3 separate regions of the Homo sapiens genome follow, and all the other regions are reported to be linked to region 3. The links are microRNA targets in miRTarBase. Many come from high-throughput screens and were not tested one by one. Region 3 holds a microRNA gene; each other region holds the end of a gene's coding sequence.
Evidence for each region. The annotated mature microRNA hsa-miR-486-3p reads CGGGGCAGCUCAGUACAGGAU and lies in region 3 at 1,311-1,331, shown strand. An mRNA with a match to its seed (bases 2 to 7 or 8) in the 3' UTR can be bound and repressed. Matches are read on the target gene's strand: a 7mer-m8 pairs with bases 2 to 8, a 7mer-A1 pairs with bases 2 to 7 and ends in A, and an 8mer does both.

Region 1 (3,340 bases), not on the chromosome of region 3:
AAGCCAGCCGGGCGCAGTGGCTCACGCCTGTAATCCCAGCACTTTGGGAGGCCGACGCGGGTGGATCACGAGGTCAGGAGATCGAGACCGTCCTGGCTAACACGGTGAAACCACGTCTCTACTAAAAATACAAAAAATTAGCCGGGCGTGGTGGCGGACGCCTGTAGTCCCAGCTACTCCGGAGGCCGAAGCAGGACAACGGCGTGAACCGTGAGTGAGGCGGATCTTGCAGTGAGCTGAGATCGCGCCACTGCACTCCAGCCTGGCGGACAGAGGGAGACTCTGTCTCAAAAAAAAAAAGGCGGGGCACGGTGGCTCACGCCTGTAATCCCAGCAATCCCAGCACTTTGGGAAGCCGAGGCGGGCGGATCACGAGGTCAGGAGTTTGAGACCAGCCTGGCCAACATGGTGAAACCCCATCTCTACTAAAATACAAAAATTAGCCGGGCGTGGTGGCGGGCGCCTGTCATCCCAGCTACTCAAGAGGCTGAGGCAGGAGAATCGCTTAAAACCAGAAGGCGGAGGTGTCAGTCAGCCGAGATTAAGCCACTACAGTCCAGTCTGGGCAACAAGAGCTAAACTCCCTCTCAAAAGAAAAAAAAAAAAAAGACACAGGGGTCTTGCTATGTTTCCCAAGCTGGTCTCGAACTTCTGGCCTCAAGCAATCCTCCAGACTTGGCTTCCCAAAGTTCTGGGAGCCATCGTGCCGGCATCTTCTTGTGTTTATTACGTTTTTAAAGCAGCCCTAGAAGATAAGAACCATAACACTCCCTAGCTCCTCCTCGACACCGTCTTGCTCAACCACCTCCCGTAACTCCCTAGTATTCAATCCCACCTCCTTGGCCCCATTTATGGGCACCTGCGGTCTTCATTGCCCACCTGTGTCCTCACCTCTAACCAATTCCTTCTATGTCTGGGCTCTCCCAGACCTTGCCATTTCCTCCAAGACTTCCCTGACTGCATTCTTCAAAAAGGCAAGTCAGGTACCTTCCCTGAAGTCCTACAGCCCTCACAATCCCCCTCCCAGCCCTGACACCTCTGTGTCCAAACTGCCTTCCTGACTTCCAGGGCAAAGAATGGGCACCCAGCACACAGCAATTGCACAGTGAAGTTGCTAAGTGGAAGCTACTAAGTATTATTACTCCAACAGCAACAGAGCAGAGGAGAAACCAGCACTGCATTTTATAGGCGACAAATGCACCTCACAGTGTTAAATTCTTGCTCAAAATCAAACATCCCCAAGGGACAAGTGGAAGATTCAAACTCCTTATGGGCTGGAGTTCAAGACCAGCCTGGTCAACATGGTGAAACTCCCCTCTACTAAAAATACATAAATTAGCTGGGCGTGGTGGCATGCACCTGTAATCCCAGCTACTTGGGAGGCTGAGGCACCAGAATTGCTTGAACCCAGGAGGCAGAGGTTGCAGTAAGCAGGGATCCGACAACTGCACTCCAGCCTGGGTGACAGAGCGAGACCCTGTTTCAAAAACAAACACCCCCCCGCACACACACACAGTTTTCCACCAGTCTTCCCAGACCTATAAAATTTATGACACAGGCTGGGCATGACGGCTCACACCTGTAATCCCAGCACTTTGGGAGGCCGAGGCAGGCAGATCACCTGAGGTCAGGAGTTCGAGACCAGCCTGGCCAACATGGTTGAAACCCCGTCTCTACTAAAAATACAAAAATTAGCCGGGTGTGGTGGTGGGCGCCTATAATCCCAGCTATTCGGGAGGCTGAGGCAGGAGATTGCTTGAACCCAGGAGAGGGAGTTTGCAGTGAGCCGAGATCGTGCCACTGCACTCCAGCCTGGGGGACAGAGCGCAGTGGTTCATGCCTGTAATCCCAGCACTTTGGGAGGCAGAGGAGGGCGGATCACCTGAGGTCGGGAGCTCGAGACCAGCCTGACCAACATGGAGAAACCCCATCTCTACTAAAAATACAAAATTAGCCGGGCGTGGTGGCGCATGCCTGTAATCCCAGCTACTCGGGAGGGTGAGGCAGGAGAATCGCTTGAACCCGCAAGGCGGAGGTTTTAATGAGCCGAGATCCCCCCATTGCACTCCAACCTGGGCAACAAAAGGGAAACTGTCTCAAAAAAAAAAAAGAGTTATGACACATATAAGGCAAGTGGAACTTTGAACATTTATTACACGTTTAATAATATTTCAAAATTATTGATAATTCTTTTGGATGTGATAAGCTTTGTAATTGTCTTTTAATGAGCTCTCATCTTGGAGAGATACATTCTGAAATATTTACAGAAGAAATAATCCGATGCCTGAGATCAGCTTCAAAAGAACTCAGGATGGGGCAGGGACGGGTTGTAGGTAGTCGGTAGTCAGGGTACTGGGTACACGGATGTTCTTTGTACTGTTCTTTGGTCTGTTGCGCAGGTTCGAAATGCTTCCTAATTAAAAAGCCTAAAAAGGGACTTGGCAAGCTCCCATCCAGACTTCAACCCCACAATATGGAGAGCACTCAGGTCCGAGGCGTTCCTGCTCCCCAGCTCCCTGCAAAAATAGCGCCAGGCAAGGTCCGAGGCGAGGGCGATGCTTCCATGAGGGTCCCGCCGACTGCGTCGCGATCCTCAATGGCTCAGCGACTTGCGGCCCTTGAGCATTCGGCGAAGGATGACCTGCACGCCGGCCGGCGTGCTCAGGCGCCGGACCCAGCCGTGCTTGTTCTTGCGTTTGATGTTGCTCGGCTGATACTCATTCCCGCGAGCCTTGCCCCGGGCCTGCTGCGGGGTGGGGAGGCCCCAGGCGTCTGGGAACCCCAGCCAGGCCCGGGGCTGGAGCCACCTGCGTGGGTAGAGGGACGGCGAGAAAGGTCAGACGGGGCGCTGGGTGACCTTGGCGCTCAACCTCTCTGAGCCTCGGCTCCCGGAGACAGAGCCTGGCTGCAAAATGCGCAAGGCACTGGCAGGTCACGCGGGCAGTGAAGAGTGGCGCCAGCCTCCGAAGCCGCCCTTATTCCCTGATTTGGGGAAGGGTCCCCCTGAGGACTTACCTGCCACCCAGCAACGCTGCCGACCTACTCGTGGGGCCCAACAGGGATCCAGCCAAGACAGCCATATCCGCAGTGGGTCCCGCAGTACCGGCTGCGGGCGATTCCGGAGCCCAGAGCCGCTCCAGCCCTGGAACAAAGGATTATGGGAAATGTAGTTTCTCCTAACGTGCAAAAAAGAGGCCGTTGGGGAAAACCCTGAAGTTGTAGTTCTGCGCCTGCGCAACAGAGGCGCGCCAGTCTATATCCGCGGGGCACAGGGATGCTCTGCATACACACCAACAGGTAGCCGGCGAACGGCGCCTTCTGAGCAAGCGCGTGCGCACAA
Region 2 (3,340 bases), not on the chromosome of region 3:
TGGTTGTCTCTGATAATACGCGGAAAGGGGTGGCCACCTCCAGCACTCAGGCTTTGATGGGTGGGCACACCCATTCAGTCACCCAGCAAGTATCTGTGAGGACCTACTGGGTGCTGGGTGGGCCCTGCTGTAAAACTCCAGCCGCTACAGGGGTCAGGCTTGATCTCTCCTCCCCAGCTAATAATCAAATAGTGGCTACCATTTAGTTTACACAGAATAAGCTGAAGCCTCAGAGAAGCAAAACGTCTTGCCCAAGATCCCAGAGTGAAGTTGCTTGAGGGAAGCTGCCCCACCCACCCCTTTGATTGACAAGTCAAGGCCTAGGTTTGAGCTCTAAGAGAAGGGCCACCTGTCTGGCTGGGATGCTGGCAGGACTGGAAATGGCAGGGCTGGCTGAGGATGGGGGCTGCCAGAAGAGCCCCTCTTCCTGGTGTACGGCCGTTGGGGGTAGCTGAGGTCGGTACAGTATCGATTCTGTCACCACATCCGGGGGCTGGGGCTGAGGAAGGAAGTCTGAGGCTGGAGTGAAAACCCAAACCACCACCTGGGGAACTGCATTGAGCCCAGAGGGATGGGCAGGGAGCACACCACGTGGAGCCCACGAAGGCTCCCCTTGGCGTCATCTAAGGGCCTCCTGCCCACCTGCACCCTTTTTCCTGAAGGGCAGATGACTGTCCCAGCAAAACGCTGCCATGTCCTGAGTGTCCAGACAGCGGCCTCCATCCTTTCTCGTATGTTCACTGGGGCCTGCTGGGGGACTGGGGCACAGCCCTTTACAACCCAGGAACTGGGCATTAGTGCCCTGTGGCAGAGGTGCTAGGATTACCGAGGACGCCTGGCTGGTAGGTGGTGGAAGCCTCCTCGAGACAGGAGCAGCGGTCCCCTCCGTCTCATCTGGAGCATGTGGACACCTGCTCCCTCTTTTTAAGGCTGTGGACCCAGTGAAATGCCATGTAAAGCACTCAGTACAGTAGACGTGGACCACTGAGAAGGGAAAGGAGGGACGCATCAGGACATGAGCCACGAGGGCTCGGGCACCTGCGGCACCTCCTCCCAGCATGGAGGAGCCTGCGCCCCAAAGCCATCATCCTCCACTGGCAGGTGCAGCCTTTTCCCTCCCTGCTCCTTGTGGGCCTGGGATGGGAACAGGAAGGGGGTTTACGTCCTCTGGGCACCAGCCCTTTGGCCTCGCCACCACCCTCACACATCCCAGGCGGGGCTGAGGCTTCAGCTGGACTGTCATCATAGTATCTGCTCCCCAGGGCTCTACCCCTGGGGAGGGAGCACTTAGGGACAGAAAGGGCACAAGGAGATTCGGTCCAGTGCCTCCACTTCTCTCCACCCACACCCCACCCAAGCTCTGGGCCCGTCTCCGGCCCCTGCTGCCCTACCACAAAACCCCAACCCATCATATCCCCTCTCTCCAAACTCCACCCAACCCAGGCAGAGCCGGTCACTCCTCCCCCAAAGTCCCCAGTGCCCTCAACAGATGGCACCGTCACCCATCTTACTCCAAAGGGTTTATTGAGACAAGTTTTCACATACAAGATGGGGACAGAGGGGTTGGGGCTTATAAACAGGAACCTGGAAGGGGACCGAGGGTGCAGGGTAGAACCAAACAAGAGAGTGAAATAAATAGAGGGAAAGAGTGGAGACAGGGAGGAGACTGACTGAGACCATCACACAGTGATAATGCGGGTGGGGCGGCGCCATGAAAATCCCGTTATTTATACAGATATACAGGGAGTTCAGGGGGACCCGAGGCCCACTCCACCCTCCATGCCCCAGGGAGGGGCACAAGAAAGCCGTCTCTACCCATGGGCGACCCCATGGGGCGCTGGGAGGGCTGCCCTAGGAGTGTTGGGCAATCCCTGGCCTGGAAGCCTTGGTTAGTGTCTGGAAAGCAGTGGAGAGGGCCGGAGGGGAGGGGCAGCCAGGCCGGGGCTCAGCTCTGAGGCTCCCGGCTGCCACCCTTTCTCCCAGCACAGCTCCTGCCCAGGTCTGGGAGGATGGGGGATGGGGGAGCAGGAGCTCAAGGGGAGAACCTGGCACCTTCTGGAGTCTTGGAAAAACTGATCCCTAAAGACACCCGGCCCTGGCTGTGCTGCCCTCTGGAAAGCAGCTCTGATACCAGGAGCGGCTGTCAGGGCACAGGGGGAAACCCCGAGGCCATCCTCGGGGGTGATTCCTGAAAGGGGCCCATCCCCAGGCTGGATGCTTGGGGAAGGCAGCCGTTGGGGAGGGATTCCTGGGGAAAGGGCCGTTAGCACCACCAGGCTCCATGGCAAACAGACAGAGGCCAGGCCTCTGCACCTCCAGCGAGGCTGGGAGTCCCCTGCGGGAAAGAGAAGGGAGGGGAGACTGAGCCGCCGCCTCTAGGGCGCCTCTAAGGCCTCAACCCCTCCCCTGCATGCCCAGGGCTCCCCCAGTGATTCTCACAGGACGCCCCTGACTGGACTGCGGGGCTCAGCACACCTGGCAGTACTAGGCATGGGCGTGCAGAGACTCAGAATGCGGGGTTTCTGCCCTCACCTCAGCCCCACCTGCCCGGCCCTACACCCCAGCCAGCGTGGCGGCCAGGGCAGGGCCAGGTGGGCATCATACGAAGACCTTGGCCAGGGCATCAGCGCCAGCACTGGCAATGAGGGCCTTGCTGGGGTGGCAGGCAACAGCGTGGATGGCCTCCTCGTGCTTCTTGCGGTGGGCCGTGATCTCCTGCACGCACGTTTTGTTGTCCAGGCTCCAGAGACGCAGGGAGCAGTCATGGCCTGCACATGTGTCGGGGACAGAAGGGGTGGTCACTGGGCTCCTCGCTCAGACGCAGCCCTGGAACCCCTCACCTGGCCTTGTCCAAAGGCCTCAGGGGAAGTGGGGCTCAACTCTCCTCTCTCACCCTCTGCTCATCACCTCCTGTGGCCCGCCCAAAGGAGAACCCTGGTCCCCTCCTGTCCACAGTCCATCTCATCCCCCAGCATTTCTTGAGCAGCTACTGCACACTGAGCCCCAGGGCGGCAGGGGCAGTGAACAAAACAGGCAACTCTCCCTGCCCCGCAGCACTGACGCTGCAGCTGGGCAACAGGAAGAGAAAGAAGAAAGCAACCCAGCCGGTCAGTGTGAGGACAGAATGGCCCCAGGAGGAATGCAGGGAGCCTTCCAGGCAGAAGGACAGGCGGGAAAGGTCCTGAGGCAGGAGGTGGGGGTGGCCACAAGAGCCTTAGCAGGGACTTGGGGAGAAGAGGGGAGAGGACGGCAGGCTGGGCAGGGCCCTGGCGAGGAGAAGTTTAATTTAGGGTCAAGAGGATCAGGCAGGGCAAAGGCTCAGCTCCCTCCACTGTCTAGT
Region 3 (3,000 bases):
ACCCAGCGCCATCACTGCTGCCTTGCTCTGCCGGGCCGTCTGCATGACACCTCCCTCCACTCACCTCTTTATGAGCTCTCTCTCCAGTCTCTCTTCTCCCTGGTGGGCAGTGTGTCTGCCACCTCCGTGTGGCCTCCTTTCGATCTTCTGCCTGTGTTCTGCCCGTCTTTGCGATCTGTCCTGCTTTCTGTCTCTGCTGCTGTCTGCAGGTGGAGCTGAGAGGGAGTGGCCTACAGCCGGACCTGATAGAGGGCAGGAAGGGGGCGCAGATAGTGAAGCGGGCCAGCCTGAAAAGGGGGAAACAGTGACCCCGAGCCGCTCTCCTTGGAGTAGCCTCTCGGGAGGTAACGCTGCCCTTCTCATCCCCTCTGCATGGCCTGGTCTTCAGTGGAGTGGCTGCTCCCTGTCTCACCCTATCCCCTCCCAGCCACCCCAGCATGATGTGGGACAAACAACTTGTTGTTGTGTCTCGAGGCAGAGATTCTCACTTCCCAACCCTGCTAACAGTTGGCTCTGAACCCCAGCTTCCTCATCAAGGAAACAGAGTTAATAATATCCACTTATCAGGGACCGCACGGTTTTGTAAGAATGCCTTTTGGGCCGGGCACAGTGGCTCATGTCTGTAATCCCAGCATTTTGTGAGGTCGAGGCAAAAGGATTGCTTTAGGCCAGGAGTTCAAGACCAGCCTGGGCAACAGAGCAAGACCCCATCACAAAAAAAAGAAAAAAAAAAGCCAGAAAGAAAAAAATGCTCTTTGAAAAGTAAAAGCACTCTGTAAATCTAAGTGGTAATATTATCTTGGAAACCAAGCAATGGGGATCTAGAAAGCAGTGGACAGGGCATTGAAGAGGACAGGAGAGTTGGTCTGGGCTGTGATGCTTCAACATAAGAGCTCCAAGACTGAGGACTGGACTGTCTCTTGAACCTGGAGCCCAGCTACAGTTCTCACCAGGCCAAGGCTTAGCTTCTCTTTGGTGTTTTGTGAAACACGTTGCTCCCTTGCTTTCTAGGAAAGGGCTGAGCCGACAGGCCTAAGGGGTGGACGACGTGCTTTCTGCAAGTCAGGAGACCGTCAGGGTTGGGGCCGGGGCCTGGGCTGTGGTGCATGTGTGTGAGCATGGGGCAGTGTGGCCACAGAGCAGGGGCATGCCGTGCCGTGCCGTGCCATGAGGAAGGGACATGAAGACGCTGTGCGACCATCTCCAGCAGGTGTGTGTGGTGCTGGGGGCTTCAGCGGCCGGCTCTGATCTCCATCCTCCCTGGGGCATCCTGTACTGAGCTGCCCCGAGGCCCTTCATGCTGCCCAGCTCGGGGCAGCTCAGTACAGGATACCTCGGGGTGGGAGTCAGCAGGAGGTGAGGGGGCATGGTGGCCCCAGTGCAGCACTAACCAGGCCGTTACCATTCACACCCCAGGGCCTGACTCTGGGACCGAGCAGCAAGGAGGCTCTAGCTTTCTGCATTCGGCAAAAATCAGGGCCCGCTGCCTCCTGAGCCACCAAAAGTGCTGACTCTGGGCTTCCCAATATATCTCAGCACTTGGGCAAAAAAGAGGACTGGCAGATCCAGTTATAGGATAAAATTAGACCTGACACCTCAGCAGCTTAAGGAGGTCACCGTGTTAACCCCTGCACTGCCAGGGGTCCCACTAGGCTGCTGGTTTAGAAGACTCTGAGTAGCTGCTGTTGGGTCCTGGAAAGAACCCAAAGATGCAAATAATGTTTAAAAGCAGCAAAGGGAAAGGAAAAGTACACTTTTCTGACTTATTTTTCTTATGGTAGCAGTGGCGGCTGTGGCTTTAAATTTCTCTTTGGCTCAGGCTCTATGGATGCTCCTGAGTGGGAGAGAGGCAGCCCGAAAGCCAGGCTAGGGGGAAGGAGGGAGCCTTGAATTTCATTTTAATTTGCCGTAAGTGATCTGCAATGTGGCTGAAGCCCCCCAACCTCAGGTGATTAAGGACCGGACCACACTAGCATGGGTGTCAGAAACACGGAGCAGCCTGGCTCTGGGACAGCACTTGGCCCTCTGTCAGTGACAGGCACAGGGACAAGTGTGAGGGTGGCAGGGGGGTGGGGCGGTGGGGCGAGAGCAGTGGTGAGGGAGAGGCGGAGAAAAGCTCCTGCCAAAGTCCCAGAGGGTTAGGGGACAGCATTAAATGCCCTACCCTCCCAACCAGGGCAAAGGCTACAGAGAAGACGGTTGAGGGCCCAAAGGCTTCCTAATTTACTATCCGCATCCCCGACAAGCATGTACAGTCGATCCTCATCATTCACGGATTCTGCATTTGCGAATTCGTCCACTCGCTAACATTTATCTGTAGCCCCAAAGCTGGCACTCACCGTGCTTTGGCTCATTCATGGACACACACACAAGGGCAGAAAGTTTGAGTCGCCCAACCCGTGCAATCCCAGCTGAGGATGAACAATGCCACACTCTGCCTCTGTGCCTCATACTATAAATAAGTGTCCTCCTTGCAGCTTGTGTAGTGCCACATTTTTCACATTTTTGGTTTCATTGTTTAGAATGGCCCCTGAGGGCAGTGCTGAAGTGCTGTCTGGTGCGAAGTGCAAGAAGGCTGGGATGTTCCTTAAGGAGGGAATGGACATCAGATAAGCTCTGCTCAGGGATGAGTTAGAGTGCTTGTGGTGGTGAAGTCAGTGTTAATGAGTCAACCCTATATATTACATAAGGCGTCTTGAAACAGAAACGCATTTAACACAAAGTTATGTATTCATCAGTTGACCAAAATATTGTGGCCAGAGGCTCATGGGAGCCTAACCTTGTATTTCCCTTAGGAGCAGTGGTTCAGTATTTGCTAATTCCGTGTTCACAGCGACTATTTATTTATTTATTTATTTATTTATTTATTTATTTATATTTTGAGAGGGAGTCTCGCTCTGTCGCCCAGGCTGGAGTGCAGTGGCACTATCTCGGCTCACTGCAACCTCCATCTCCCGGGTTCAAGTGATCTTCCTGCCTCAGCCTCCTGAGTAGCTGGGA

Region 1: miRTarBase lists MRPL34 as a target of hsa-miR-486-3p. Seed matches in the 3' UTR shown: 8mer at 2,313-2,320.
Region 2: the mRNA of STRN4 is a reported target of hsa-miR-486-3p. Seed matches in the 3' UTR shown: 7mer-m8 at 1,927-1,933.

Annotation. Positions count from the first base shown.
Region 1 is chr19:17,305,633-17,308,972 of GRCh38, reverse strand. It overlaps MRPL34 (mitochondrial ribosomal protein L34), which reads right to left and starts at 3,101. Exons shown (of 2, transcript NM_023937.4): 1 at 3,016-3,101; 2 at 2,130-2,807. The coding sequence starts at 3,080. The coding sequence ends at 2,594. RefSeq lists enhancers at 1-107, 3,078-3,157 and a silencer at 2,788-2,847.
Region 2 is chr19:46,718,004-46,721,343 of GRCh38, forward strand. It overlaps STRN4 (striatin 4), which reads right to left. Exons shown (of 18, transcript NM_013403.3): 17 at 2,533-2,768; 18 at 1,508-2,335. The coding sequence ends at 2,599. LOC107987269 reads right to left here and starts at 1,719. Exons shown (of 4, transcript XM_017027568.2): 1 at 643-1,719; 2 at 350-499. The coding sequence starts at 1,060. RefSeq lists an enhancer at 357-406.
Region 3 is chr8:41,658,774-41,661,773 of GRCh38, reverse strand. It overlaps MIR486-1 (microRNA 486-1), which reads left to right and starts at 1,266; the gene lies at 1,266-1,333. It overlaps ANK1 (ankyrin 1), which reads left to right. Exons shown (of 43, transcript NM_000037.4): 42 at 210-344. The coding sequence ends at 308. It overlaps MIR486-2 (microRNA 486-2), which reads right to left and starts at 1,330; the gene lies at 1,267-1,330.